4 linked regions of the Homo sapiens genome follow. The protein of the gene in region 4 interacts with the protein of the main gene of each other region in a pairwise test. Each region holds a gene or a part of one and is shown on either strand. Other genes may lie near its edges. The genes, in order: SYT2, ALOX5AP, STX16 and NAPB.

The links.
Region 1: the proteins of NAPB (region 4) and SYT2 interact in binary tests that used the Homo sapiens proteins (3 or more experiments, as listed by UniProt).
Region 2: the proteins of NAPB (region 4) and ALOX5AP interact in binary tests that used the Homo sapiens proteins (3 or more experiments, as listed by UniProt).
Region 3: the proteins of NAPB (region 4) and STX16 interact in binary tests that used the Homo sapiens proteins (3 or more experiments, as listed by UniProt).

What each region holds. Positions count from the first base shown.
Region 1 is NC_000001.11:202,700,433-202,707,458, forward strand, and holds part of SYT2 (synaptotagmin-2), read right to left. Parts: intron 1-7,026. UniProt on the Homo sapiens protein: Exhibits calcium-dependent phospholipid and inositol polyphosphate binding properties. May have a regulatory role in the membrane interactions during trafficking of synaptic vesicles at the active zone of the synapse.
Region 2 is NC_000013.11:30,752,520-30,759,545, reverse strand, and holds part of ALOX5AP (arachidonate 5-lipoxygenase-activating protein), read right to left. Parts: intron 4,036-7,026; exon of another isoform or gene 3,947-4,035; intron 3,603-3,946; coding exon 3,521-3,602; intron 1-3,520. UniProt on the Homo sapiens protein: Required for leukotriene biosynthesis by ALOX5 (5-lipoxygenase). Anchors ALOX5 to the membrane. Binds arachidonic acid, and could play an essential role in the transfer of arachidonic acid to ALOX5.
Region 3 is NC_000020.11:58,661,268-58,668,293, forward strand, and holds part of STX16 (syntaxin-16), read left to right. Parts: intron 1-6,222; coding exon 6,223-6,330; intron 6,331-6,719; coding exon 6,720-6,860; intron 6,861-7,026. UniProt on the Homo sapiens protein: SNARE involved in vesicular transport from the late endosomes to the trans-Golgi network.
Region 4 is NC_000020.11:23,376,465-23,383,490, forward strand, and holds part of NAPB (beta-soluble NSF attachment protein), read right to left. Parts: intron 4,854-7,026; coding exon 4,749-4,853; intron 3,472-4,748; coding exon 3,403-3,471; intron 3,032-3,402; coding exon 2,981-3,031; intron 1,023-2,980; coding exon 912-1,022; 3' UTR 1-911. UniProt on the Homo sapiens protein: Required for vesicular transport between the endoplasmic reticulum and the Golgi apparatus.

The sequences.
Region 1 (7,026 bases), on a different chromosome or scaffold from region 4:
TTCTAAGACCCGTTTATTGAGGACCCTCCAAGAGCGTTTTCTTATGTAAGTTAGATCCATCCATAGTTACCATATTCAAAATTAAAACTGAGAAATTTCTAAATTAGCTCAAAATACAATAGTAACTCATTACCTGTTAATACAACATATTTAATAAGTAACTATATTTTCCAAGACCAAAAAAATATATAGTAGACGTTTTCTCTAGTAAAATATCTAGTAAGAAGGAGGCCTTGTTTCACATCATTGCAAATCTCTTTAATGTGTGGTTTACTAGAAGGTAGCTAGAGTTTTATATCAACTTCGGTGTTCGGTCTGTCTGCAATACATTACTTTGATTGAAAGATGAAAGAAAATCCAACCTCACTCAGATATGTAACTGGAAAGGGGAGGGGTATTTAATAAAGCCTTTTCAGATCATTGTGGATATTTTTCTTTGATATGACATCACTGCTCCCCAAGTGGTAGCTTCTTAAAGACTGGCTGCAGTGGGGAATCTGAAACCTTGCACTTGGAATGCTTGTTTGCCTCTGTGCATGATTTTGTGACATCATTCATTTATCATTTCGAAGATATTGGCTTGCCGAATTGTGAAGATCTTTCAAATATTGATGAATTTCATTAAACAATATTAACAAATCACATCTATTACTATTCCCACTGATCTTATCACAAAAGTCCTTTTCATAGTAATATGTGTGAGTTTTCCAAAATTCTAATTTTTGCTTGAAAGCTTAAATTTTATCATTGGCCACAAATACTGCCAGTTGTTTTTCTGGAAGTGACGAGCTCACTTCGTTCATTTTTGCAAAAATGCCTGCTCAACACCCAAGTCTGAATAACTGGAGTTTGTTGGTTGTTCTTTCAGATAAAATGGTATCCCATGGAAAAATGGCTAGTTCAGCCTGCAACTCAAACAGATGCACAGGTGATGGGCACTGTTCAGTTGCTTGAGAAATTATTGTGTAATATTTCTGTAAGAAGCAGAAGTGCTTTATGTGTACTTCTCATTCCATCACAGAGAATATTAAAAAGATGTGCACTCCAGAATCAAGCTTCAATATAATTATAATCTTTGCTGCTTCATGAAAAGAAGACATTCTTAACTGAAAATGGCATTTCATTATTTACCAATTACTTTGCTTAGCGGGTGTGTAGTGTGGAAGAACACAAAGACGGGTGCAGTGTGATACTATTACCTTGATTCATGGTAAGGTGCCAGCAGCTTCACCCACCACTGCTTTAGCACCATCAATGTCAAGCATGGGAATGGCAAATAACTTTATTGCCATCATGGAAACTGCTTTGACCTTATGGACCCCCCTGAAAATTCTTAGGGACTCCCAGGGACCCGTGGCCCCCATCTTGATTACTGCTATAAGGTAAACTTCACAAGGGCCTGTTCCCTGTGTGTTACTGTCTCCATTTTCAGATGAGGACCCCGAAGTTCAGAAAGTTTAAGTAACTTGCCCAGGGTCACACAGGCAGGAAGTGGCAGTCTTGGTTTGACCTAGGCCATCTGACTCCCAGCCACACACACGCTGCTTCAGTTATGCCCTACAGAACATGCTGTGGGGGCCTCTCCTCTGCCCCTTCCCCATTGCCTCACCTCCTGAGGTCTTTGGGGCTCACGATCTACTCCAGGGGAGGCACGAAGACACCTCCAGGTTTGCAGTGGTGAGGACCTGGGCTTCTATTACTGTCTGCCCCAGGGCACCCCTGCCACCCTCTACCAGTAGGAGACCTAATGGGGGTGGAGCACGCCTCCCTGGGAAGCCTCAGACGTCTGGGGCTGGCTTGCCAATGGCAGGCTCAGTTCTTGATGCTTCCCTGCCTCCTGCAGCTGCAGCAGCAGCAACCAGCACAGTTCCCAGCATCAAAGAGCTAATCCAATTTCTCAGCTGTGCTTCCCCCTTCGCCTCCTGCAATGCCAGGATTGATTTGGAAACAGGGCAGCCTTATTAAAGTGATGCCTTTTCCTACTCGTGGGAGAGTCAAACTGGGAGAGGGAGCCCTCCCACAGCCAATTAACTCCATGCTTCCCGCTAACACTGATCCTAGCCACAGCCACCCTTGAGTTTCCTGGGGTTTACCTGTAACTCTTCTTAGCTCCTAGTGGTGAGGATGGATTTCAGTCCTAGGTCTGCTTCCCTCCAAGACCCAAGAGCACTTAACCAATAGGTTCTTGTTCATCCTTCCTGCACTTCTAGAGGGTTGCCTGGGTGGTCCCCTCTCCTCCTGCTTGCAGGCCTCCACCCCGTCTCCTAACATCCCATCTTAGGCCCTATGACCGGGCCGTCACTTGGTCCATCTGAGTTGGTACAATGAAAGATACATGGCAGACAGCCCCAAGAGGGATAGAGGTAAAGACCTGTACATTTGTTAAATGGGCTTTTCTCCAAATAAACACAGGAGGCAGAAGACAAGGACAGTCCTCAGAGACCTCTACCACCCTCAGCCCAAGCCCCTCTCCAGGCCCCCCTCCTTGCGGCCTCACAGCTCTCCTCTAATCTAGGGAGTTAAGGTGTAGCAGAAGCAGAGAAGGCCCCGCTCCAGAAAATGCTTCCTTTCTACAAATAGCATAAAAACTGCTTCCCGAGTCACTTTGTAGAAGAGGAAGGACATGCACAACACATCTGGATCATTAGTTCAGACTGGAATCAATGGTGAGGAAAAGAGATTTCTCTCAAACCACCCAGCCCTTAGGGAGCAGAGGTTCTCTGGGAAGGTCTTTGGAGCTCAGAGCACTGGCTGACCTTGGGGAAGGCATTTCTGGTCTGGAAAGGAAAAAATGAGCACCACCTCTTTGACGCTACCACCCTCCCACCCCCGGCCACCGCTCCCCTCCCTCCGCCGCCCATACACATGGCCCTACCCAGCTCAGCCCTGCAATACCACAAATGCCTCATTTGACTTCAGAGGAAAATGGAGCTAAGAGTAGGAGTGAGGAAGGGAGTAAAAAGAAGGGCGGGGGAAGGAACAAGTGGGGAGGGAGAGATGAAGGTACAAGGTACCCTCTCCTGTCTCTCACATGCACACTACTGCAGGTGGTTACAACTCTTTTCTGTTTCTCCACAGCTGAGCAGGAAACTGGGAGAAGAGCCCTTCTCCCCTGCAGCCTCTCCCTCTTGGCCTCCATCACCACTCTCCTAACCCCTGCCAAGCCCTGCATCTGATCCTACCTGAGCTAAAGAAGCAGAAGGTCCGGAGGGAGCCTGTGATTTTTGCCTCGGTCACCTCTTACAAATGCGGTGGGCTGCTGGGCTCGCCCTAACCCTGCATCACCCCCAGGCTGCTCCTTCAGTCTACTCGGGTATGGAAAGGGTTAAGCTCCTCCCATCCCCTCCTTCCTTCATCCCATTTCTCCATTCACTTCTATTTTCCCATATGCCTAGTGCCAAGCTCACAGTTACAACCACTTACACCCTGTATTAAGATGCATGGAATAGTAATGGGTAAATTCCGTCTCTAATTGCAATATTTCCTAATTACTAAATTCCAGAGCCACTGTATCAACCCAATTATGGCAAGTCCTGCCAGAGTTCTCCATGGTCTGAGGACTCCCTGCCTTACTGAGAGGCACCTGACAAATGCCTCGGGGGAGCTTTCCTGACTCCCCACCCAGCTGCTGTCCTCCCCTGGTCCCAGACTGTCCAGTGATGAGGCCCTTGGGCTTCTAGTTTCTCTGCAGGGGATGGGAGGAAGTGAAGCAAGCTTTGTGATTGAGGAAAGCCTTGTGTTGACAGGCGACTATCCTGGGGTTGGAGAGCATCTGGGAGCCCTGTCACTCTGCACCAGCCACCATCAATGCTCCCAGCTTCAGAACTCCACTTTGGGGGCTAGGGGGACCCAGGAGAGGAGGAGAAACAACATGCCCTGGCCTTGGGGAGCGCCCAGGCTGATAGAGGAGACACGGTTATTTTGAGTTCTCCTTTACATCCCAGGTGCCTTTTACAGAGTAGGTGCTTAGTGCATTGGAGTGGAACGTGGAGGAAAAGGCGGGAGGAAAGTAGGAAGTAAGGAAGGAATGGGGTGCTCTGGCTCAGGCTGAGTTTAGACTCTGGCTACACCTGCACGCAAGGGTTGACTTTTGGGCTGTGAGTCCCATAGGGATCTGACTTCTCAGGTCTGGAGTCTCCGAAGGAGAGAAGCAGTCACACACCCACTAACTCCCATTCTCCCTGCCTTTGCAAGGGGCCCTCCTCCCCAGCCCACCCCTAGGACCCTGAATACACACATATGCACACACACACGGCTGCTGGGCTTCAGAGGAGCCGTTTAATTGCCGAGTTGAAACCTGCAAGGGCTTTTGGTGCTGATGACATCAGCATGCCATCACAGATAGGGCTGCTGAGGCTGGAGCAGCTCTGGATTCAGCGGGGTGTCCCATCATGCACTCAAGACTGCCCACCCTGGGGCCTCCCTCCTTGCTTCAGAGCAGGTGTTCCTGAAGGAGGTGCCAGAGCCCTTATGGAGAGCCCAAGGAAACCCAACATCAGGGAGGGAGAGCTGATTCAATTCCTCCAAGGAATCACTGCCTAATTTTTGTAAAGGCTGCTGCCTGATTTAAATCACCCAGCCTCCTGCTTCTACTCAACGCGTTAGTGGCCTCATCCCAAGGACCCGCACCTGTATTCTCGGGCTCCATTTGCCATAGGTAGAGCTGGTGAGAAGCGGCGAGGAGAGGAGGAAGGGTTCTGACCACTCAGCTGCTGTGGCCTGGAAGGCCCCCTGCAAAGTGCCTATGATCTGGGGATTTTGAACAACCACACAACTTCTCTGGGGATTTTGAACCACACAACTTCTCTGGGCCTTTGCCCGTTCATTGTAAAGTGGGGACAGCGATGGCGTAGCCGAGGACTGCAGTGATGAGAGCTTGACCGCCCTTGTGAGCCGCTCTATCCCCGAGCAGGGGAGCAGGAGGCGCAGGGAGGAGCCCTGAGGTTCCCTGTTGTGCGGGACCCACACTGACTTTGCCCTTTCTTATGCCTGATGCTTAGTGTTACTGACAGCAAAAGCTGAAATCCTGAGGTCCCCGGCTAAAGTGACCAAGGAAGGGCCTCTCCTGACTTTACAGCAGCAGGTAACCCCCCTTTCTTTCAGATTTGGAGGCTGCTTGGCCATTTTAATGGACCCTGCTACTCACATCCTACTTCCCTAAGTGTGAGGGGCTTTCAGAATCTAACCTCCTCCCTGGCACTCAGCCAGCAGGGACTTTATCCTCATCAGAAAATGATCCAGGGAGGAAGCTTCTACAATATCTACTGCTCATCTTGGATTTTGGGAGTCCTTTTTTTTTTTTTGAGACCGGATCTCACTGTTTTCCAGGCTGAAGTGAAGTGGCATGACCATAGCTCACTGCAGTCTCGACCTCCTGGGCTCAGGCGATCCTCCTGCTTAACCTGGTGTGCCACCATGCCCAGCTAATTTTTAAATTTTTTGTAGAGACAGGGTCTCCATATGTTGCCCAGCCTGCTCTGGAATTCCTGGGCTCAAGCGATCCTTCTACCTCAGCCTCCCAAAGCGCTGGGATTACAGGTGTGAGCCACTGCACCTGGCCTGGGGAGTCCTTCTGGATGTTTAATTTTAGACCCAGCCTCTCTAGGGGAGGGGGCTGGCAGCTAGGTGTTCCCCTGCCCTCCAGGCTCACAGTGACTCTCAGGTCCCTCTGGGCCTGGATCCAAATTTACCCATCACTCTGGCTACTTCCTTGAACTGTCAGTTCCAGAGATGAAAATGAAGGATTGCTGGGACAAATCCTTCCCAGAAATCAAGCTTTGGCAAGAAAAGACTCATTAGGCATAAAAACCGTCTTCGAGTGAGGGGGATGAAATGCAGGACTGACCACCAAGACGGTGAGGGCAACTCCTTCCCTTGAGTTTTAAGAATATCAAAGGTGGACAGTGCTCCCTGCAGCTGGAGAACCCAAGACAGTGTTGTGTGTGTGGGCAGGAAAAGGAGCACGCAGGCCACCCAAGGATGAAAAGCACTTACTCCTCCCGCGCCAGGCACTGTTCTACACGCTTTACAGGAATTAACCCATTTCATCCTCACCAAGAACAATCTACGTCATAGTTACAAATTTTAGCTCCATTCTACAGATGGCAAGACTAAAAAACAGAGTGTGATTGACTCGCCCAAAATCACAGCAAGTGGCAGAACCAGGATGAACCCTGGCAATCTGGCTGTAGTCACTATACTGCCACTTAGAAAAAAATCTCTGACTTGATGTTTCTCCAATGAAACTATATTATTTATCACAGGCTTCTGGAGTCCAGGAGAAGCCATAACTGAATCCCAGCTTCTCTGGCCTGGCTTCTCTGACTGAGTGGAAGATGAAGAATCAACTTGTTGCCTATGGATGGATTATTCACGTAGGGAATTTAGAACTGCATCTGTCTGGTGGTCCAGGGGCTACTTCTAAAATAACACGAATAGTTATCAGTTCTACAATACTACCCTGAGAGTTAAGCATTATTACCTCTGTTCTTTAGAGAAAACTGTGCAGACATTGTCAGATCATCCTGTTACATGCTCTCGAAGCTTCCTACATACCTTCATAACTCTTGGCACAGTCATGATGAATTCTTTATGTAATTATCTAATTGTGTGGTATTCACTAGATTGTAAATGCCACGAGGGCAGGAAACAGGTCTGTTTTGTTCCCACCTGAATCTCCATTGCCTAGCACAGATTCTCAAAATGCAATAGTGGAACGAATGCAGAAGGGATGCTGAGTGGCTCAGTAACATGTGTAGGGCCTGCGGCTGTGCTCACCTCCCCACCCAGAGAGACTACAATAGTGGCACATGGTAGGTACTCACTAATAAAATACTTGTTGCAAATGTCAGACTTTGTACTTAGCAGCCCTGGGATTTGAACCCAGGCCTGTCTATCTCCTAGCCTCCATTCTTTGGTGCTTCATATTTAACCACTGCACTGAGTGACCCTGCCCCCCCATTACTCCCTCTGACTTGCTGTTCCAGTTCTTAAAGAGTATCCCCACCACCCTGGACCTTCAGTGGT
Region 2 (7,026 bases), on a different chromosome or scaffold from region 4:
AGGAGACACCTTGGGTCTCCTTGGGGACAAAGACTCCGTCATGTTCACTGTTACTCCTTCAGCAACTGACCTGGTACCTGGCACAGAGCAGGTAGCAAATATCTACTGAATCAATGTTGAGTGAATGAGGAGTGAGTGAGCAACTCAGGAGGAGGAGGAGTGGGGTAACCTGAGTTCATTGGCCTCAAGAGTTGGCAGTCATTGCCCACCCACCATTGAGCTGAGAACTTCATATTGCCAAGAGGATCAGTAGGAGCCCCAACAGAGGACAGGACTCCATGGGATAGGAAGAGGGAGCAACCCAGTGCCTGCTAGGGAAGGTAGGTAATAAAAGACCAAGAGTCAGTTGCCAGTTGGTGCCAGGTGCCATTGAGTTCAGGCCCAGGTAATAGCTTAAATGAATGGGGAAGAAACCAAGATTCAGGCTGGGCATCATGGGTGGCTTATGCCTATACTCCCAGTACTTTGGGAGGCCGGGGATGGCAGATTGCTTGAGTTCAGCAGTTCGAGACCAGCCTGGCCAACATAGCTAAACCCTATCTCTACTAAAAATACAAAAAATTAGCTGGGTGTGGTAGTGCACACCTGTAGTCTCAGCTACTCAAGAGGCTGAGGTATAAGAATCACTTGAACCTGGGAAGAGGTGGAGGTTGCAGTGAGCCAAGATCAGGCCACTGCACTCCAGTTTGGGTGACAGAGCAAGACTATGTAAGGTGAGGTGAGATGAGGTGATGTGAAGGGAGGGAAGGGAAGGGAAGGGGAAAAGAGAAGAGAAAAAAGAAAAGAAGAGAAAAGAAACGAAACCAAGATTCATCCTTCACTGCTGGGTAGTAACTGCTACAGGTGAACTAAACAGGATAGAGGAAGGGGTCAGAGAGAGTAGGATGAAGGGCTGAAAATAAGAGCCAGAAACTTCTAGAGGGCATTAAAAAGGGAGCTGCAAAATCCTCGCAGGGCAGCCTGAAGCCTGAAGGAAGAAGCTCAGACTGGGGCATTCATTATGGAATGTCTTCCCTACCCACTGGATCAAGGATGACACTGAACTTCCTAAGCGGACAGGGCTGGAGCAACTTCTGGAAAGGGGCAACGGACCATCTGGGGTTCAAGAGAGAAATTCCGGGGGAAGGATCTCATCTAGCAATTCCTCCTCGGTTGGTGAGGTCAAGAACTAAAGCAGGTCCCAAGAGCATTAGGTGTCTGCAGAGTCCAAGTGTGACATAGCCCAGGAACAGAAGAGAGGCCTGGGGAGGAGATGGGCCCAACTGAAGAAGATCTCAGCAAGTAGCTTCTAGACGGCAGGGTTGAAAATCTCCTTGCATTTAACCATAAAGCCCCTCTGGCTTGCATCTATATCAGGCCGTATTTTGGTCTAGATTAGGCTTAGACATTTCTTCTAGTATCTATTACTTCTACTTATGACAGCTGCTCAGAGTGGTTGTGTTAAGCAGTATCTGTGTTAAGAAGGATTCCGAGGCCAGGTTTGGTCTCTGGAAGAAAGAGCACCATGATTCATCAGTAATGCCTACCACGGCCAGAGGGGAGGAGAAGGGGGTCTAGAACCCGCGCAGATGGCGGGTTATGGGGCTGGCAGGATCTTCTTCTTATCACCTAAAGAGGGAGACCAGGGAGGGACACAAGAAGGCAGGCCATTTATATTTCAATGAGGTCCGAAGAAATCTACTATTTTAAAGATTTCTTGTAAATCAATCTCCTATTGTTTATTTTTGCCACCTCTGTTCATTCCCTAATAGGAATCAGTTAGTAAAGCCTTTAAAGTTAAAAGGACATGTGGGTAGGTGGACAAATTTTGTCATGTTCTGCAGATGGTCTCGGAATTAAAGCAGCTGTAGGATCTCAAGCAAGTGGTGACAGATGAAGAGAGGAGCAGTGACTGAGCCACATCCCTGGGACTTTGCAGGGGGTAAGATAGGGCTGCATAGGGAGCCAGGCAAAAGAGAAGACCCTCTTATTTCATTGCTAGACATTCCACCCCCACTCTTAACGAGGTAATCACATGGGAAAAGGCATGATAGAGGTTTTCCAGGGCAAAAGAGAATAAAGAATATCATTTAGGGCAGTGTTGATAAGAATAGGAGAGATAATGGAATTGTGGTTTTAGAGGATAAATAAGAATGCCACTAGAGAGGAATGAAGAAAGAGATGGCACAGGGAAGGATCTGCTGAAAGAACAGTCATTCTTTTTCCAGCTGCAGCCCGGCTCACGGTCTAACCCCGTCAAGTCCTTGAGCTTCACAGGCTCTCAGGTTTTCCAGATATAGCGCTTTCACCCGCTGACCTCCCTAGGATGTCACTGCCTTTATCACTACTGAAGGATGCTATCTAATCATAGAGCCCATTAGCCACTAGAGAGGGGTGCTATTGTAAAAGACAGAGCGGCTGTGAACACAAGGAAGGAAAATGGTGTGGAAGGCTGGGGTCAGCACCTGGGGCAGCAGCCTCACAGAACGTGTTCCTGGCACCTGAAACCATACTAGTGCATTAGGAATTGCAATCTCTAAGGAACTGACGGCATACTCTAACGCCGACATTTCTTCTGTAAGTATTAGCATGTATTTTACTAAAATCTAGATTTCCTAGTCCAGATGTCAGGAAGGTACTGTGCTGCTTTGGGGCTTTCTGTCTGGCAACATCTATAAACAATGCAATGGTGATGCTAGTCAGTTTCACAGTCTCGTGTCTGCATCTTTTTTTTTTTTTTTTTTTTTTTTTTTGAGATGGAGTTTTGCTTTTGTTGCCCAGGCTGGAGTGCAGTGGCGCAATCTCGGCTCACTGCAACCTCTGCCTCCTGGGTTCAAGCGATTCTCCAGCCTCAGCCTATGGAGTAGCTGGGATTACAGGCGCCCACCACCATGCCTGGCTAATGTTTTGTATATTTTTTAGTAGAGACGGGGTTTCACCATGTTGGCCAGGCTGGTCTCAAACTCCTGACCTCAGGTGATCCACCCACCTCAGCCTCCCAAAGTGCTGGGATTATAGGCGTGAGCCGCTGCACCCTGCTGTCATGTCTGCATCTTACTGCATCTTATTTTCCCAACATTCTTTCTTCTGGTCCCTGAAAGATATGTTCCTCAGGACAACTTATCACAAGGTGCAAGCTTTAGTTCTCATTTCTCTAGACAAACAATGAAACATTTCACTCTCAGGAGGCCTGGGAACCCAGACCTAAAATGTCATTCCAGCGCCAGACTCTGCAGGGCGGGAGTGCAGGGTGTGGGGCTGCAAGGCACGTGCAGCAAACAGCACTGAAGCACCCTTTGAAAGCCAGCACCATGCGGAGGAATTGCTTAATAAGAAAACTGGGCAAGTCCCCCCAGCTGTATTTTCAGAGCCTTCAAAGCTCAGGGAAAGAAGAATCAGAGGTCCTAGTCAGCCTTCCCCCTCCCACCCAAGGGGATGCTACGGAGCCGTGAATCTAGTCAAATACTGTTTTGAATTGTCACTCTTCCTGCTCAAAAATCAGGAATCGCTCCACAGTTCTTTAGTAGTCCCAGTTACCTACCTCTGCGTTCTCTCTCCTAGGTAACCGACAAAGTACTTTTGCCTCACAAACAAGTACATCAGTCCAGCAAACGCAGCAGGAACTAAGTGGAGAAATGAAAACACCTGTGTCAGTTTCGTAGCCACCAAAACATGCTGTTAGCCCAATTAGGCAATCAACATTGGTCACAAAATCTAGCAGAAGACACACGCACTTCAGGAAAAGAGCCCAAGGGCTAGAGGAAACCTGAGAACCTTCCTAATACTGGTAACGACCTTATGCCGGCATCATGGCATTGTTTACAACAAACTTGTCCAACCCGGAGCCTGCGGGTCGCACGTGGCCCAGGATGGCTTTGAATACAGCCCAACACAAATTCATAAACTTTCTTAAAAATATGAGATTTTTTTTGCAACGTTTTTTCTTTAGCTCATCAGCTATTGATAGGGTTAGTGTATTCTATGTGTGGCCCAAGACAACTCTTCTTCCAGTGTGGCTCAGGGAACCCAAAAGACTGGACACTCCTGGTTTCCAAGGTATTTGCATATCTATCATCTAACCTGAGTCCTTTCAACATAACTAGTACCCACATTTCTATTTCCAGATGTGGAAACGTGGGTTCAGGTGGTCAACCAGGCTTGCATAAGGCTGTCAGCTCGTAAAAGGGGGCAGAGGGTAGGGCTTAAACCCCAAACCCAGCTCTGAAACTGGTTCTCTTAAAAGTACACCCTTCACCCCTGAGCCTCCCCACAGCACAATGTTTAACCTTTCTTGAACTAACAGCTACCATTTAGAAGAGAAGGACATTCCCTCTGCATTCTAGCCTTTTGGGAAGGAGATTCCCTCTGCGTTCTAGCCTTTTGGGAAGGAGATTCCCTCTGCGTTCTAGCCTTTTGGGAAGGAGATTCCCTCTGCATTCTAGCTTTTTGGGAAGGAGATTCCCTCTGCATTCTAGCTTTTTGGGAAACTGCCAAGAGCAGCACCCCAATAACTCTATGAAGTCCTGAAGGCTTGGAGCTGGGAGTTAACTAAGCTGGAACTAGTGTTATCTAGAGCTACAGATATAAAAGCAATTTAAACACTTCCGCCATTGAGGGAATACTTTTCACCTGCCGCAGTGCTCCTGGCGTTTTGGGAACTTGAGTCTCCAATCCTCCCAGCTCTCTGGTAAGGAGTGTGTTACTGTCACCATTTGACAGACGAGGAAATTTAGGCTTAGGCCACAAGAGCCTAAGACAGATGAGGACATCTGTCTTTTTCCTAGATCATCTCTGAGCCTGGCATAGTGCCTGGCACATAGGGGTGTTCAAAATAATATTTGTCAAATGAATGAAAATAAGTCAGGCCAGTGAAGGCGTGGAATTTGAAGCCAGGTCTTTCTGATTTCAAAACTTTATCACCACCACCTGCATTATCAATAATAACATTTATTGCGCTTCAGATGTTAGGTGGAATCATATGAAATGCTATTTTTGTAGGTCATAAATAGCCAGATATTGGCAGTTTTACATGGCTCAATCTGATATATGCCAAGCACTGTGTCAGGAGCTTTATACATATTATTTCACTCACCATAGGAATGCTACTAGCTAGACCATGGTCCTGTTTTACAATAAGGAAACTGAGGCTTGGAAAAGCTGAGTAACTGCCTGGAGTCACACACCAGCAATGAGTGTCCTTGGATTTGCCTCCAATCAGCCACTCCCCAAAACCCATTTCTTTCCACAATTCCTCCTGCCTTCCAAAATACTATTGTTATCCGGCAGATAAGAAAATCAAAGCAAAAGAGAAACTGTGAACTCTTTTTGAGACGGAGTTTCACTCTTGTTGCCCAGGCTGGAGTGCAATGGTGCTATCTTGGTTCACCGCAACCTCCGCCTCCCAGGTTTAAGTGATTCTCCTGCCTCAGCCTCCCGAGTAGCTGGCATTACAGGCATGCACCACCACGCCCAGCTAATTTTGTATTTTTAGTAGAGACAGGGTTTCTCCATGTTGGTCAGGCTGTTGTCGAACTCCCAACCTCAAGTGACCTGCCTGCCTCGGCCTCCCAAAGTGCTGGGATTACAGGCATGAGCCACTGTGCCTGGCCCATGCTATTCTCTAAAAATCACAAAGCTGTCACAATCACGATTTGCCTTGGGCAAAGTTTTTCCTTATGTTATACCATCTGAATGATTCTGCTCCAACTTACTGGTCCATTTTTCTTTCAATGGGAACCCAATTGAACATGAGCTAACAGAGATTATGGGTGGAAAATGGCCACACTCATACCCCTGTGCAAGGAAGGTGAGTGCCTCCTGCAGGGAAGTGGGCTGCTGGCACCAGGAGGGTACAAATCCAGCCCCTAAAATTCTGATGTTCGTTCAAGCCACTTGTTCCTCTGGGACTTGAGCTTCTGCTCTATAAAGTGAGGGATTTGCACTAGAATTATCTTTGGGTTTCCTTTCTGCTAAAAAAAATTCTACAGTCTACTTTATTCCTAAGAAATGACGATTATCAACCAAGGTTACTGATGCTTTTGTCTGCTGGCAATGACAAAGCTTGTTTTGACAGGAAATACCTATTTCCAGGGCTACGAAACACCTTCAAACTCCCATTGTATTTATCTAGCTACAGCAAGTCCGCATTCATCTAGATCAAGCATCATCTAAGACATAAAAAGAACCATAACTCCTAGTAAGAGCATAGTTTGACTTGATTTTTCAAGTAATGCGAGACATGTTTCCTATTTAACTCAGGAGAGAAAATAGGAAATAAATGGTGAGCTTACTGACAGCCTTCTCAGCACAGAAGGAGTGCCACGTGGTGTCCCTTAAGTGGTTTCTGCTGCCGCCTCACCTCTGCTCTCTATCACTGAACTTGGTTCTCTTCCCATATGGCGCTTCCCACCCTTGTCATTGTCTTCATTCACTGACTTCTGTGGTCCATCTTGCCAGCTGGCCTGTGCCTCACCGCCAGGTGACCTCTAGAAGCTACTCTTTATTTATCACTGTATATCTAGGCACAGGGCTTGGCACAGAGTAGCTCTTCAATATATATTTATTATGTAAATGAATAAAGTAAGAGGATCTTTGTGAAAAATCCAGAATTTTAAGTCAAAAGACCCAGGCACTCATTCTGCCTGTGTTCTTCACCAGCTGAGTAGCTGTACCCAAGTTACTTTATCTCCCTGAGTCAAAGTATCCTGAAAGGTAATAAGGGACATAAAATCCACTCTATCTACTTTACAGAGCGGGGAGACAACAATAAGTCTTAAACAGTTCATCATGGGACTGAGTGTGGCCTTTCTGCCTGTGCCCTCCAGGGCCACAGAAGCTGGCCAGTTCATGCCGATCTGCCACCAGGCACAGTGCCAGGCGTGGCCCCGAAAGGGGACCAAAAGTATGACTGATTTCCACTCAATGTTAAATCAACTCTGGAAGTTGATTTGTCTTTCCAACTTGCTCAAGTCAAGCCTGTGGGCTGCTGATAACTGTGGGAAGGCCGGGGATGTGGCATCCAGCCCGTGGCTCAGTGGAAACATGCCT
Region 3 (7,026 bases), about 35 Mb from region 4:
TCGGGGTCTGCTGTCTGAACCGATTTCCAGTCTTTCCTACTTCCTTTTTCAGGCAGCAAGTTCCAGAAACTGGCTACTCACTGCATGAACTTGGCAGGCCCTTTTGCTTTTCTTATGTTTCACCTCTAAGGGCTTAAAAGGGAGTCTTCACGCTCTGTGATCAGAGGCCCTGCGTAGAGAGCACTATCTCCTCCACGCTCACCCCAGTGCTATTAGAAATGCAGGTTGCTGCCTCATCGTGGGTGCCCACGGCCACCTCATTTCCTTGTGCGTTTCACTTGCCTCTTTTGCTCTTTTGTGCAGTGCCGTTATCTTTTTCATGAAGTGTGGCTTCCACAATTGTCTGTGACGTACATTTTATTTACCTCGTGCATTCATTCCACTCGTTTCTTGTCGGATCACTCAGCTGGTTGTGATTGTGCGTTCAGGACTCTGAAGTGCCAGGTACTGGCCTAGGAGCAGGGGGTGTGGTTGGGGACAGTGTCCAGAGGCTTCTTTGAAGCTGACGCAGGGCCTCACATTGGCATCTCTGGAAATAGTGAACACCCAGCTCCAGAGTGGATTAGATGTTAGCCACCCCTTTATAGGGGAGGCCTGAGCAAATGTCCCTGAGTGAATATCACTTGCATCTCCCAGAGTAAAGGCATCTGACGGCCTCACTTCAGAGGCTTCCTGCAGTCTGTCCATGTTTGATTGTCATTCTCCTCCTCTAGCCTGAGTACCCTGGAGATGTCACTTTTCCTTCTCAGAAAACACTAAGTAAGGTGTTCCCTGAGGAGGACCCGAGCCCACCATTGGTTCTCTTACCCAGGGAAGTGTCTGGCCCTCTCCTTTGTTCTCTGTCTTTAATCTACTTCCTGTCTTATGACAAAGAAATCTCTGGGAGTTTTTAAACTCAAGAATTATTTTAAAAGTCACAAGATAACAAATGTCAAGCCCCCAAACCACACTGCCTGGAGGACTGCACATCTGGGAGTGCCTGGGCCGGGCCCCAGTGTCCATGTTGGTGAAATAGGGAGCGGCGCTCCTCTGAAGGATTGTTCTTGGGACTGGCATGGGCCAGGTCAGTAGCAGTGCTCAGTACAGTGCTCACAGAAGGCAGGGAGGGACGGATTGCTCCCCTCCTTTTTCTTCCCCTCAGAGTATGTATGTTAGTTGAGAAAAAAGGAAAATCAGTGAAACTTAACAACAGTATCAGGGTGATGTGATTCTCAAGTGTTTTTATCTCTATATTTTTTGTATCATTTATTTTTATTTTTTTGAGACAGAGTCTCACTCTGTTGCCCAGGCTAGAGTGCAGTGGCGCGATCTCGGCTCACTGCAACCTCTGCCTCCCCAGTTCAAGCGATTCTCCTGCCTCAGCCTCCTGAGTAGCTGGGACTACAGGTGCGTGCCACCATGCGTGGCTATTTTATTTATTTATTTATTTTTGTATTTTTTAGTAGAGACGGAGTTTTGACATGTTGCTCAGGCTGGTCTCGAACTCCTGAGCTCAAGTGATCCGCCTGCCTTGGCCTCCCAAGTGCTAGGATTACAGGCGTGAGCCACTGCGTCATCCTATGCCATTTTAAAAGTATTTATTTTGACCATTTACTAATTTCATAATTAGAAAAGGTAAGCATTATTTTAAAATTATTACGGGTTTAGAAAAATGTAGTGCTGACATCACTTTTTTCTTTTATCCACATGCTTATTCACTTCTCCAACAACTCGGATTTCTTAAGCCTAATTGTCTATTAGCGAAGTAGTCTGACTTCATCATACAGGCTCCCAGAGTTTCACGTGGAAGTGTGAGTTGCCAGTCTGTTGATTTTCAGTGTCCCTTCTGGGCTTTCCAAGTGTTCATTGCCATAGACAGTCCAGAATTATCGGTATTGTTCTCATTACCAATGCGTTACGGCTAAACTTAGTTGATTTTTTTAGATGGGGAGGAGGTGTAGCTGACTTTTCCAATCTCCACAGAGGCTTTGCTATTTCTGTAATCTTAGTCTACACTAAATCAGCCTTCAGGGAAAGGCAGGGTTTTTAAGAGTAGGAGGGCCATAGATTTGGAACAGCAAGATTTATAAGAGAGAATGTGTATGTTCTTTCCATAGATGGAGAACTTGTCCATACTGGCTGGTACTCTTTAAATGGACAAATGTCAACATTTGAAGTGGATCAAAGGCAAAAGATACCTTTAGTGAGACTGGCAGGAAAGCCATTGGGTGTGCTGTTTTGAACATCTGTTGGATTTTTTCTGCATTTCTCTCAGGAAGGATGGCTCTAGGTTAGGGTAGCGGACCCCAGTAGTTCTTGGAGAGAGGAACTACATATCAAAGAGGCAAGAATTCTTAATTCTCTTAAGTACAATTTTTATTTAAAAAATATGGATTTTTTTTTTTTTACTTCAGAAGCACAAATTTATTTATTTATTTATGTATTGAGATGGAGTCTCGCTCTGTCTTAATAAAAGGCTGGAGCACATTGGCACGATCTTGGCTCACTGCAACTTCTGCCTTCCGGGTTCAAGTGATTCTCCTGCCTCAGCTTCCCGAGTAGCTGGGATTACAGGTGCATGCCACCATGCCCGGCTAATTTTTGTATTTTCAGTAGAGACGGGGTTTCACCGTGCTGGCTAGGCTGGTCTTGAACTCCCGACCTCAGGCAATCCGCCTGCCTCAGCCTCCCAAAGTGCTGGGATTACCGGCGTGAGCCACCATGGCCAGCTGCACAAACCAACATCATATATTTGGAGGGGGCACCATGTTGAAATTCAGTAAGGGTAAGGAGAGAGAATTAGAAACCTGGCCATTTTTTAAGATCTGTATGAAATAGGATGGCAGCTTGAAAATTGATACATATGCTGGATCTTCAACAATAAGAAGACATGTTTTTAAATGGAAAGTGAGGTTTCTGAAATTAAAAGGGTGCTTATGTTGCACATAAAATTTGTTTATGTCCATATTTGTTCCCATTTCAAATAGTTGACGCTTATCTTCAACAATTGTTTTCCCTTCCCAAAACATACTGTCTTGTTTTTTAATAGTACATACTGTGATACACATTACAAATCCATACTGCTAAAAGAAATGACACATTTCTTCTCAATAGGGTGGTGTTTCTTTATTATAATGAACTATAGCTATAGACTGTATCATAAAAGAGACAAATTATTCGCTATTTAAAGTTTTCATTCCCAAAGAATCAGCTGTTCTATCTTACTGGCAAAACTCTGATACAATGTGTGGGAAAGCTAGTACCAGCTGAGCAGGCTGGCATCCATGCTGTTCATGTAGGAATCTCTAATTAGCAAGCTTCCTTAGGACCCTTAACAAAGAGTGTGTTCTCCCCACTTTTGATTTACATCTAATTTGAGGGGAACACATGCATAAAATCAAGTACTGCTTCAAAGAGTTGTATTCACTTCAACCGACTTTTCATATGTGGTTTATAATTTGTTGTTTTGGATAAAATGATACTAATCCCAATGCAGGTAAATTTAGATAGATACCATCTCTCTGTCTTCTTTAGTTTAATGTGTATTTGTAAACAGTAAAAACAGTACAAAATAAGATCATGAGCTTAAAAACTCTAAAATCACTATAAATAATTACTGATTGAAATGTGTAATAATAAAATATAGTGGATTCGATAATAAACTGGTGTAGTGGAAATTCTAGGACCCATGAAGAGGTCCTTTAGCAATTTTAGATTTTACTTTGTATAAACAGCTGGAGTTCAAGTTCTGTTCCAGTCCAGCAATACTGTAGACAGCACCTGATGTATGGCTGGCAGGTGCTGCGAGCTGGGCCTGTGGTTTGTCCCCCTGCTTTTTAGTCAGTGTGTCCTCCACAGAGTTGTGTACCTCTTGGTGACTTTGGAGCAGGAGTGTTGAGGAATAAACAAGTCTGCCTCTGAGTGCTTGGCACAGGCCCTCTCTGTGCCTGCTCTGTAGAGGGTGAGGTCTGCGCCTCTCTGTCCACGGATGGTCAGTAAGAGAGGATGATCTTTACTGACACTAACGTCACTCACTGGCGGCCTGTCCTATAGTGCCTGGTGTAGTTGGTGGGAAATGAATCAAACTACTGTGTTTTGTTGTTTTAATCTGATGGCTTGTCTTGATTCATTTTCTTAGCAAATTGCAGTTATAGTTTATGGGCCTGTGGAGTGATTGGCACCTTTGAGGGTGGAAGGGGTTTCTGGAGTCAGCCGACCCAGGTTTCAGTCTGTCACATAATGGCTCTGTGACCTTGGGCAAGCGACTTAACTTTTCTGAGTTTCAATTTCCATATTTATAGGTTAGAATAATAGTTTCTAACTCACCTAGTTTTTATGAGGATTAAAATAATGTCAAGAATGTAAAATTCCTATTGATGAACTCTTGAAACCAAACAGAAGGTAGTGGTGGTGGAGAATTACCACTTCACGGCCCGGGAGCCCCAGACAGTGCGGGTTTGGATGACACACCATTTGTTTAAGAAATGACACTGGCCCTGCAGCATCCGTGCCACGCTTGAGCACCGTTGGGCTTAATCACGGCTCCTGGACGTGCTGGGATTAGTGAATGGGGCCTAGTCCTTCCAGCGTGGTCATTGCCTAAGATGCGTTCCCTGAGTGGACACGTGCCCCAGAGCACACAGAAAGCCTGAAGCAGATGGTGGCAGAACCACTCCAGGGCATGCAGGGAGGTTGATGGTGAAGATACCAATTTGCTTTTAAGAATTTTACTGTGAACTCTTTAGGATTTAGGGCCTATTACTTGAAGTGGTCTTTTATTCTAAGTTTTTCTTTATATGATATTTTTCCCCCTTCATCTGTGGATTTTAAAATTTTGTCTTGTTCCTTTATTATTAGAAAAGCAAATAAGTATTTAATGAATGAAAAAATAAATTTAGTTAAATGCAAGGAAGAGGGAAGAAAAGCAATATGAATTTTTCACCCAACTCTACAGTGTGATTTAGAAAATTTCCAAAGTATTATCTATAAAGGGCTTTTATAGATTATTTTCCATTATATTTTGATCATCATTTGGATCTTTTGAAACTGGCATTTAAAAATTCTGAGCTCTGGAGGGCACCTCAAAATCTTTTCAACCCATTCACTGCCTGCAGGCAAGAAAACAGCTTAACCGTGCCAAACCCATGATTTCCCTCTGTTTTTTGTGTGTGTGTGTGTTTTTTTTTTTTTTTTTTTTTTGAGACAGAGTTTCGCTCTTGTTGCCCTGGCTGGAGTGCAATGGTACGATCATGGCTCACTGCGACCTTCGCCTCTTGGGTTCAAGGGATTCTCCTGCCTCAGCCTCCCGAGTAGCTGGGATTACAGGCATAAGCCACCATGCCCAGTTAATTTTTGTATTTTTAGTAGAGAACGGTTTTCACCATTTTGGCCAGGCTACTCTCGAACTCCTGACCTCAGATGATCTGCCCGCCTTGGCCTCCCAAAGTTCTGGGATTACAGGCGTGAGCCACCGCGCCCAGCCGATTTCCCTCCCATTCTTAAAAGCTTTCTACCGCAGTGTGTTATATAGTTAAAATAAACAGGAACCATCGATACCATTTCAAAATAAGGGGAAATGTTCCCTGTGGACATTTAACTGAAGAAAAGAAATGACAGTGTAAGATTGCATTGAGATCTTAAGGATTGCTTTTGCCAAATGGTAGATAATTTGCTAGCGGTTTTAGGCAGTTGTTTCACACATCTTAACACATGGTTAATGATTGTGTGACTGAGATAACTGGATCAGCCCTATTTCCAAAATAAGCTAAGTGTATTTAAGTAAACCTTGCTACTATTGAGCATTTTGTAGTTGTTTCATTTACTGCCTAGTTTTTTTTTTCACTTGCAACTGATCACAAGAATCATTGAGGTTCATGCCGTTCTATCACAGTACTAGTAGTAAGAGGTCTTTATTTTAAGGATCTTTTGTTGACTTTTTCATTACATTTCTATAGCCAGATCAAGTCAAATTTACGTTCTGAAGTATGTCCAAGGAAATTAAGAGCTGGTGCATGAAAAGATAGGAAAACAATCCAAATCCTAGCAGTTATCAAAAGCAAGTTTATAATACAGGCAAGTGCATTCACTCCTTTCTATATATTTTCAGGGAGCAACATTTAAGAGAGAGTAAACATTCACTCCTTTCTGTATCTTTTCAGGGAGTAACATTTAAGAGAGAGTAAGAGTATTTGTATCTAAATTGGATTAGAATAATTTTTTTCATGTCCCTTTACTTTCCTGTAGCTTGCTGATGACCGTATGGCACTGGTGTCAGGCATCAGCTTAGATCCAGAAGCAGCGATTGGTGTGACAAAACGGCCACCTCCTAAGTGGGTGGATGGAGTGGATGAAGTAAGTTCCATGTTAGTTTCATAGCATCTTGTTTTTTTAAGTAATTATGACAATGTATTTTAAGATATCTGTCATATAAACGAATTTGGCTACACTTGAATGTATATTTCTAGAAATACTTTAGCTTTAGGTTAAGTTGTCTATGTGTGTGTTAATGATTTTAGCTGTAGTTTTAACATTGGTAGTAACTACCTGAATTATAGGAAGAAATTGAAACCCCATGCAACAAGGAAGAATGTGATTTTCTGGTAATTTGAATTAAAAGCTGCTCACACATCAGCAAGCCAACAAGTTTGCTGAAGACCGAATTCTGTATGCTGAGTGTAGCTGATGGAGGCAGACCATAGCCTGCCTGGCATCAGTGGAGTTCTGTGACTTCATTTGCTTAGATTCAGTATGATGTTGGCCGGATTAAGCAGAAGATGAAAGAATTGGCCAGCCTTCATGACAAGCATTTAAACAGACCCACCCTGGATGACAGCAGCGAAGAGGAACATGCCATTGAGATAACTACCCAAGAGATCACTCAGGTGAGGAGTGCAAGTGAGTCCTGGGGAAACCAGCGAGCCTTCTCATGGCAATCTCAGAAACTAGAGTGTTACTCAGAATCAGTCTCCTGGAGTCATTTCCCAACCTGAAGTTCTCAGAGGGACCTCAAGAGGCCCTGAAGTCCTCCAGCTGTCAGCGTAGGTACCT
Region 4 (7,026 bases):
TAGATAATCTATCCAGCCCTGACCAAGATTTCTATAGTCACAGCACAGAACACACCACCTCAACGTGGGAAAGTGTATAAACATGAAAATAATGAGCAGGCTATGCCAATTAAAATACTTCAATGTAAATATAAAGGGATTTCCACTCCAACTAAAAGTGAAAACTATCTCCAGAAAAAGAGAAAAATTCCATTTCTAACAGATCTTGTGATATGTGTGTGTGTGTAAACGCGTGTGTCTAAGTACAAATCAAATTCACTTTGACACTCATCCATACATGAAGCAAGTACTTCCAGAAAGCTCCCTTCCTCACAATGTGATGCCTACAGACCCTGGCTATTCTAAATTTTTGCCATGCACATGTTAGCATACGGAACAACACAAAAAGCAAAGAAACTAGTCACTAGCACCATCAAAATAATCACAGGATAACAAAAATAGAAATGATTTCTAATGAAGTTATAAACTCATTCCTAGTAACTGTCCTAAACTAAACACACATTTAAAGAACATATTCAGATGCCAAAGCACAGAGAAAATGCAAAGCATCTATGAGAACAACTGGGCTGAGTACTCAAGTCCAACAAAAAGGACATAAAAACACGTGGCAACATTAAACATAGGCTCCACAAATACCAATGAAATATGAGGAATGAGATTCTGAAGTACTTCTCAGAAAACGCTGGGGGTTCTGATAAGCATGAAACAACCCATCATTACCACAAGATGAACAGGAGCCTCTCCTTCATTCATTTCACAGCAACACAGACTTGGCGAGCTTAAACAATACACAGGCCGTCTGGCTCATATGCAACAAAATTAAGCCATTAAATAGGCATCCCATAAAGATCACTTGACCCTAAGACAAAACTAAAGAGGAGTTAGCTGCATGCCACAAAGACAAAAACATTTCATTTTAGGTCTCCATCTCCTTCTCCATCCCCTTGGATGGACTTTTTGATGCGAAGCAACATGGTGGTCAGCCACTGATCCAAGCGAGATATTGAGTCAAATTCCTTCACCTAGTATAAGGAAAGAGGAACAGGAATTACCCCATGTAAATACATTAAAAACACAAAATAATAGTACCCCAAGCTGTTTATACCTTTACAGCCATAATCTACTAACTTTCTTCATCATTTGAAATTAATCATTCCAGTTTATAACTTTCTTCATTAAAAAATTGTTTATTTTTTCATTATCCTGTTACTATTTTGATACTAGTGACAAGTTCCTGGGCTTGACATTTCTCTGTTTTCAAACGTGTAAGAAAAAAATTCATTAACAGTCATAATTATTGTGGCAAAAGTAACTGGATATTGTATAAAAATTTGAAAGGAATATGGAAAATTAATACTCACTGAACATGGGAAAACATTAATTACAGAGTTAGAATATGTATGGAAGCGGAATTAACACATTTCAATGCATTACCCAAAAATAAAATTACAATAGGATGAAAATGATGTGGTAGGCAAAAGTCAGACAGGAAAACATTCCTTTCCTCTATCACTCCTGAGCTGTGATGAACATGTTACAGGAGGCTACTGAGAAATTTGCTTGAGGCTGGATGTAGTGGCTCATGCCTGTAATCCTTGAAGTCTGGGAGGCCAAGGCAGGTGGATAGCTTAAGCCCAGGAGTTAAGAGACCAGCCTGGGCAACATGGTGAAACCTTGTCTCAACAAAAAATGCAAAAAAAAAAAAAAAAATTAGCTGGGGGTGGTGGTGTGCACCTGTAGTCCCAGGTACTTAGGAGTCTCAGGTGGGAGGATCACCTGAACCCAGGAGGTTGAGGGTGCAGTGAGCCGTGATCACACCACAGCACTCCAGCCTGAGTGACAGAGTGAGGATCTGTTTCAAAATATATAAAAACATTTTTTTTTGCTTGATTCTAAACATGAGATGGCAAAAGATGGAAAAACAAAAAGTATAAAGAAAAAAACCCTCATATTTTTAATATATATATATATTTATTATTTATTTATTTATTTTTGAGATGGAGTTTCACTCTTGTTGCCCAGGCTGGAATGCAATGGCGTGATCTTGGCTCACTGCAACCTCCACCTCCTGGGTTCAAGAGATTCTCCTGCCTCAGCCTCCCGAGTAGCTGGTATTACAGGCACACTCCACCATGCCTGGCTAATTTTTGTATTTTTAGTAAAGATGGTGTTTTGCCATGTTGGCCAAGCTGGTCTCAAACTCCTGATCTCAGGTGATCCACCCGCCTTGGCCTCCCAAAGTGCTAGGATTATAGGTGTGAGCCACCGTGCCTGGCCACCTTCCATTTATTTCATGCCACAAATACAGCAAATTCTCACTACTTAGTTTTTATATTTTAAATTATATTTAATTTTTTTTTTCTTTTTTTTTTTGAGACAGAGTCTCGCTCTGTCACCAGGCTGGAGTGCAGTGGTGCAATCTCAGCTCACTGCAACCTCTGCCTCCCGGGTTCAAGCGATTCTCCTGCCTCAGCCTCCCGAGTAGCTGGGACTACAGGCGTGTGCCAGCATGCCTGGCTAATTTTTATATTTTTAGTAGAGACGGGGTTTCACCATGTTGGCGAGGATGGTCTCAATTTCCTGACTCATGATCTGCCTGCCTCGGCCTCCGAAAGTGCCAGGATTACAGGTGTGAGACGCCGTGCCTGGCCTTAACTAATTTTACTTTATACTTATTTATGGGTCAGATTATTTTCAAAAGAAAAAATTAAAACAGCAAATTATAAGAATATAAATGGAATATTTGCTCCTGAACTAGTCTCACAGCTAAATTAGTTTTGAGTGTAAGTCGAATCTCAGCATGGCTAATGGAACTGTTTAATTTGTGTGATATATAAAAGGTGACGTTTGGAAAATACAACTTAAGGTATGCTGGAGTCATGTTCAAATAAATGTTTAGAATTCACATAATGAAAAGGAAAAGAAGTTTCTTTAACTTAAATCTTCAAATAATGTACCATGTCCCAAAAGCATAACTTACTGCTTCAGTGTAAGCTTCACTGTTCTGTTCTTCATGAGCTTCTAGGAGTTTCTGGTAGCATAAAAATATTTTAAAAAACAGTTCTGTAAGATGAAGTCCCATTTCTAAATATATACTTTAAGTATAATACCAATGTTGCCAAATATTGCACAAAACTGAGGAAATACTCATATACAAGTCAAGAGCCAAGTTAGGGATCTAGCTTCTGTAGTAACATTTCTCAGGTGCCTATTTCAGAACACAACTACATGTTTCTGACCTTAATTGCATTTGAACACCTATAATACGAAAGCAGGAAAGTACCAGGGCCCCTCAGTTAGCAGACTTTATAGATTAAAACTTCACTTCATACCCAATCCCACTTAGGTGTTGTCACCTAACAGAACAAAAGCATTTTTCTTCAAAGTTCTAATATTACTTACTTTCAATAATTTACATTCTCTTGAATCAGTAAATGCTGGAAACATTTCCTCATATTTCTCAAGAGCAAGCTGAGAGAGAAAAACCACTCATCAATTTCAGACTTACTAAACAAACAAAGCTTTCAACATTCTATCAGCTTCAAATAAGATCTACCTATATCCTATTAAGTGTTGAAAAAGTATGTAGTTAAACTCAAAAGCAGAATCAACATAGAAAATCTTTCTATTCTGAATTTTCCATTTCAATAAAGAATAATTTCTAAACTACTTTTTTCTGAGTTAGGCTGCTGCTGAGAAGACATTGTAAATGAAAATGAATTCTTAAACACTCACAGACCAGGTATCTGTATCCATCCATTAAATGGAGACGTTCTTAATACAGTCCAGATTCCAAATAAATTACATTTAGCTTCCTGCTCGAAGCTGACAGAAAGAACAGTTTCTCTTACTGGCTTTAGTTCTGCTCTTCCAACTCCAGACACTGGCCATGCCAAGGCTGCCTGTCTTTTTGCCTCTTGGCTCCCAGTGCTCACTGTGCTTTTCAACTTCTTCCCAGTCCTCACTCCAACACCATTTCTGAGCTTGCCTGTTGTTTTGGTTGTTTTTTAAATGGATATTATCCTACTCTTATTGTCTCCTCCCTTAGTTCCTTAATTTCTTTCTTTTTTTTTTTTGAGACGGACTCTTACTCTGTCACCCAGGCTGGAGTGCAGTGGTGCGATCTCAGCTCACTGCAACCTCTGCCTCACAGGTTCAAGTGATTCTCCTGCCTCAGCCTCTCAAGTAGCTGGACTTACAGGCACCCGCCACCACACCCAGCTAATTTTTTTATATTTTTAGTAGAAACGGGGTTTCACCATTTTGACCAGGCTGGTCTCAAACTCCTGACCTCAGGTGCTCCACCCCACTTGGCCTCCCAAAATGCTGGGTTTACAGATGTGAGCCACCACGCCTGGCCCCCTTAATTTCTTTAAAGCAAAACTACTGAAAAAAAAATGGTGGCTACCAGTGAACATATACATATATTTAAGCCTATAGCACTAAATATTCCCAGGCAGTGCCCCCCATTCAAGTACCAGGCTCTACACTGCTTAGCTTCTGAGATCAGACGAGATTGGGTGTGTTCAGGGTGGTATGGCTATAAACTATCAGGTAACTTTTGAGAACAGCTTTGACAGCTGTTAAAAGATTACAACTGGGACACATACCACAGAATAATACTTATTTTTAATGTACCCGTTTATTCTTGGTACTAACATCAAAATGAAATGATACCAAGAACAAGAGAGAATGTGTACGTATTCTTATGGGTGAAATCAGTCAATCAATGCTGAAGAACTCCTTACCTTGGCATTCAACTCGTCTACTATGAAGTGGCAGAGGGCAGCTTTGAAGAAGTAATCCTTTGCACTGTATTTCAACAAAGGATTATCCATTGTGTTTGCCCCAACCTAGGCACAGAACGCAGAGTTAAATTTAAAAGATTTACCCTCTTATATCAGGCAAAGTCATTCTCATCTGTTGTCCTTTAGAAAATAATTATGTATCTTATGTTTGTTTAGCTATGAAATATATTATTTTATCCGAATACCATATAGTAGAAATTTTACTAGACAAGACCATTAAATACATGAAGTCTTAACCAGTTAAAAATAGCTCAGAAGAATTCTGCTTCCAATAAGATGGAGTAAACATCCTTTCCCCTAATCCTCCCACTAAGCACTACTAAAAGCCCAGGTCATTTTCTAAAAAACAAACGTTTCCCAAGGGAAAACGTGGTAGTGGGTTCCCTCAGTTTTCTTTTCCCTTCCTATATCCATGGCATGAAACTGAAGAACCAGCAACCCAGAAATGCCAGTATGCACAGATAAAAAGAGAAGAGACAAAAGCCTGCTCTCTCTGGCCAAAGGACTAGAAAAGGGGCAGCCCAGCAAGAGAGAAAACACTTAGACAATAACTGCTCTACTCCAGCCAAATATCACAGAAAAACTGAGGCCCTAACTCCATTTACATCATCAAAGGCTGAAGAAGGAGTCCTAAAGTCCATTCTTGAAAGACTGTAAGAAGCACCCCAATACCTCTGCTTAGGAGCTTCAGAGAAGGCCAAATAGGGAGCTGAGGCTTGATCCCCACCCAACCCCCTGACACTAAGGCAGTGCAGACCACACTGGGAGCCTGCATCCTGTCTCTGTCAAGCAGGAAAGAGGTTCCCCTTCTTTCTCCAGCTGGTGTGCTGTCAGAAGAGGTCTAGTGGAGGGTGAAGACTCTCACCATACCAAGAACAAACCAGCACTGTGCTGGCAGAAACAGATAAGGAGAGGGGATGCCACTTCTGCCCAGGGCTGACTAGGCCCCTCAGGTGTCAACAGAGACCTGGTGGAAAGCTGACACTTCTACCTCCACCTGGCAGTAATGAGGTAACATCCCCACCTTCCCCAGCCAGAGGAATGTCAAAGAAGGCCAACTGAAAAGAGAACGTTTAAACAAGACCCAGTCTCATAACCTAATGTGCAAATGCCCTGTTTTCAATCAGAAATGACTTGTAATACCAAAAACACAGGAAGATCTCAAGCTAAATGAAAAAAGACCATTAACAGATGATGGTTCCAGATGACGGAAATGTCCAAAATATCCCACGAAGATTTTAAAGAAGCCCTCATAAAAATGCTCCAAAAAGCAAGTACAATAACACCTGAAGCTAATGGAAAAATGGAAAGCATCCACAAAGAAAAAGGAAGCCACAGGAAAAAAGATATAAAGTAAAAACAAATAAAAATTTCAGAACTGAAAAAAAAAAACAGTACCATACATAAAAAGTGGGTGGGCTCAACAGCAGGATGAAAGGGACAGAGGAAAGAAGCACTAAATGGAAGACAACAACAGGAACAACAGAGAGAAGACAAACTGACAAAAAGGAACAGAGCATCAAGGACCCATGGGATAATAAAACAGTCTCACTTTTGTGGCATCTGTGTTCTAGAAGGGGAGGAGAAAGAGAAAAGGGCTGGCTGGGCATGGTGGCTCACGCCTGTAATCCCAGCACTGTGGGAGGCCAAGGCAGGCGAACCACTTGAGGTCAAGAGTTCAAGACCAGCCTGGTCAACATGGCGAAACCTTGTCTGTACTAAAAATACAAAAATTAGCCAGGTGTGGTGGCAAGCACCTGTAGTCCCAGCTACTTGGGAGGCTGAGACAGGAGAATTGCTTGAACCTGGGAGGCAAAGGTTGCAGTGAGACAAGATTGCGCCATTAAACTGGCACGCCTGGGCGACAGAGCAAGACTCGGTCTCAAAAAAAAAAAAAAAAAAAAAAAGGAAGCTGAAAAAGTACTTGAAGAAATAACTGCTAAATGATTCTCAAATTTGACAAGAAACATAAACCTACAGATTCTGTAAGTTTAGGGAAACTCAAATAGCTTAAAACCAAATATATCTATCCAAGCCACATTATAATTAAACTTTTGAAACTAAAAGAAAAAAATTATGAAAGTGTCTAGAGAATAACACCTTTTTTATAGGGGAAAACAAGTTGAATGACAGCAGACTTCTTATCAAAAACAATGGAGGCCGACTAGGCGTTGTGGCTCATGCCTGTAATCCCAGCACTTTGGGAGGCTGAGGTGGG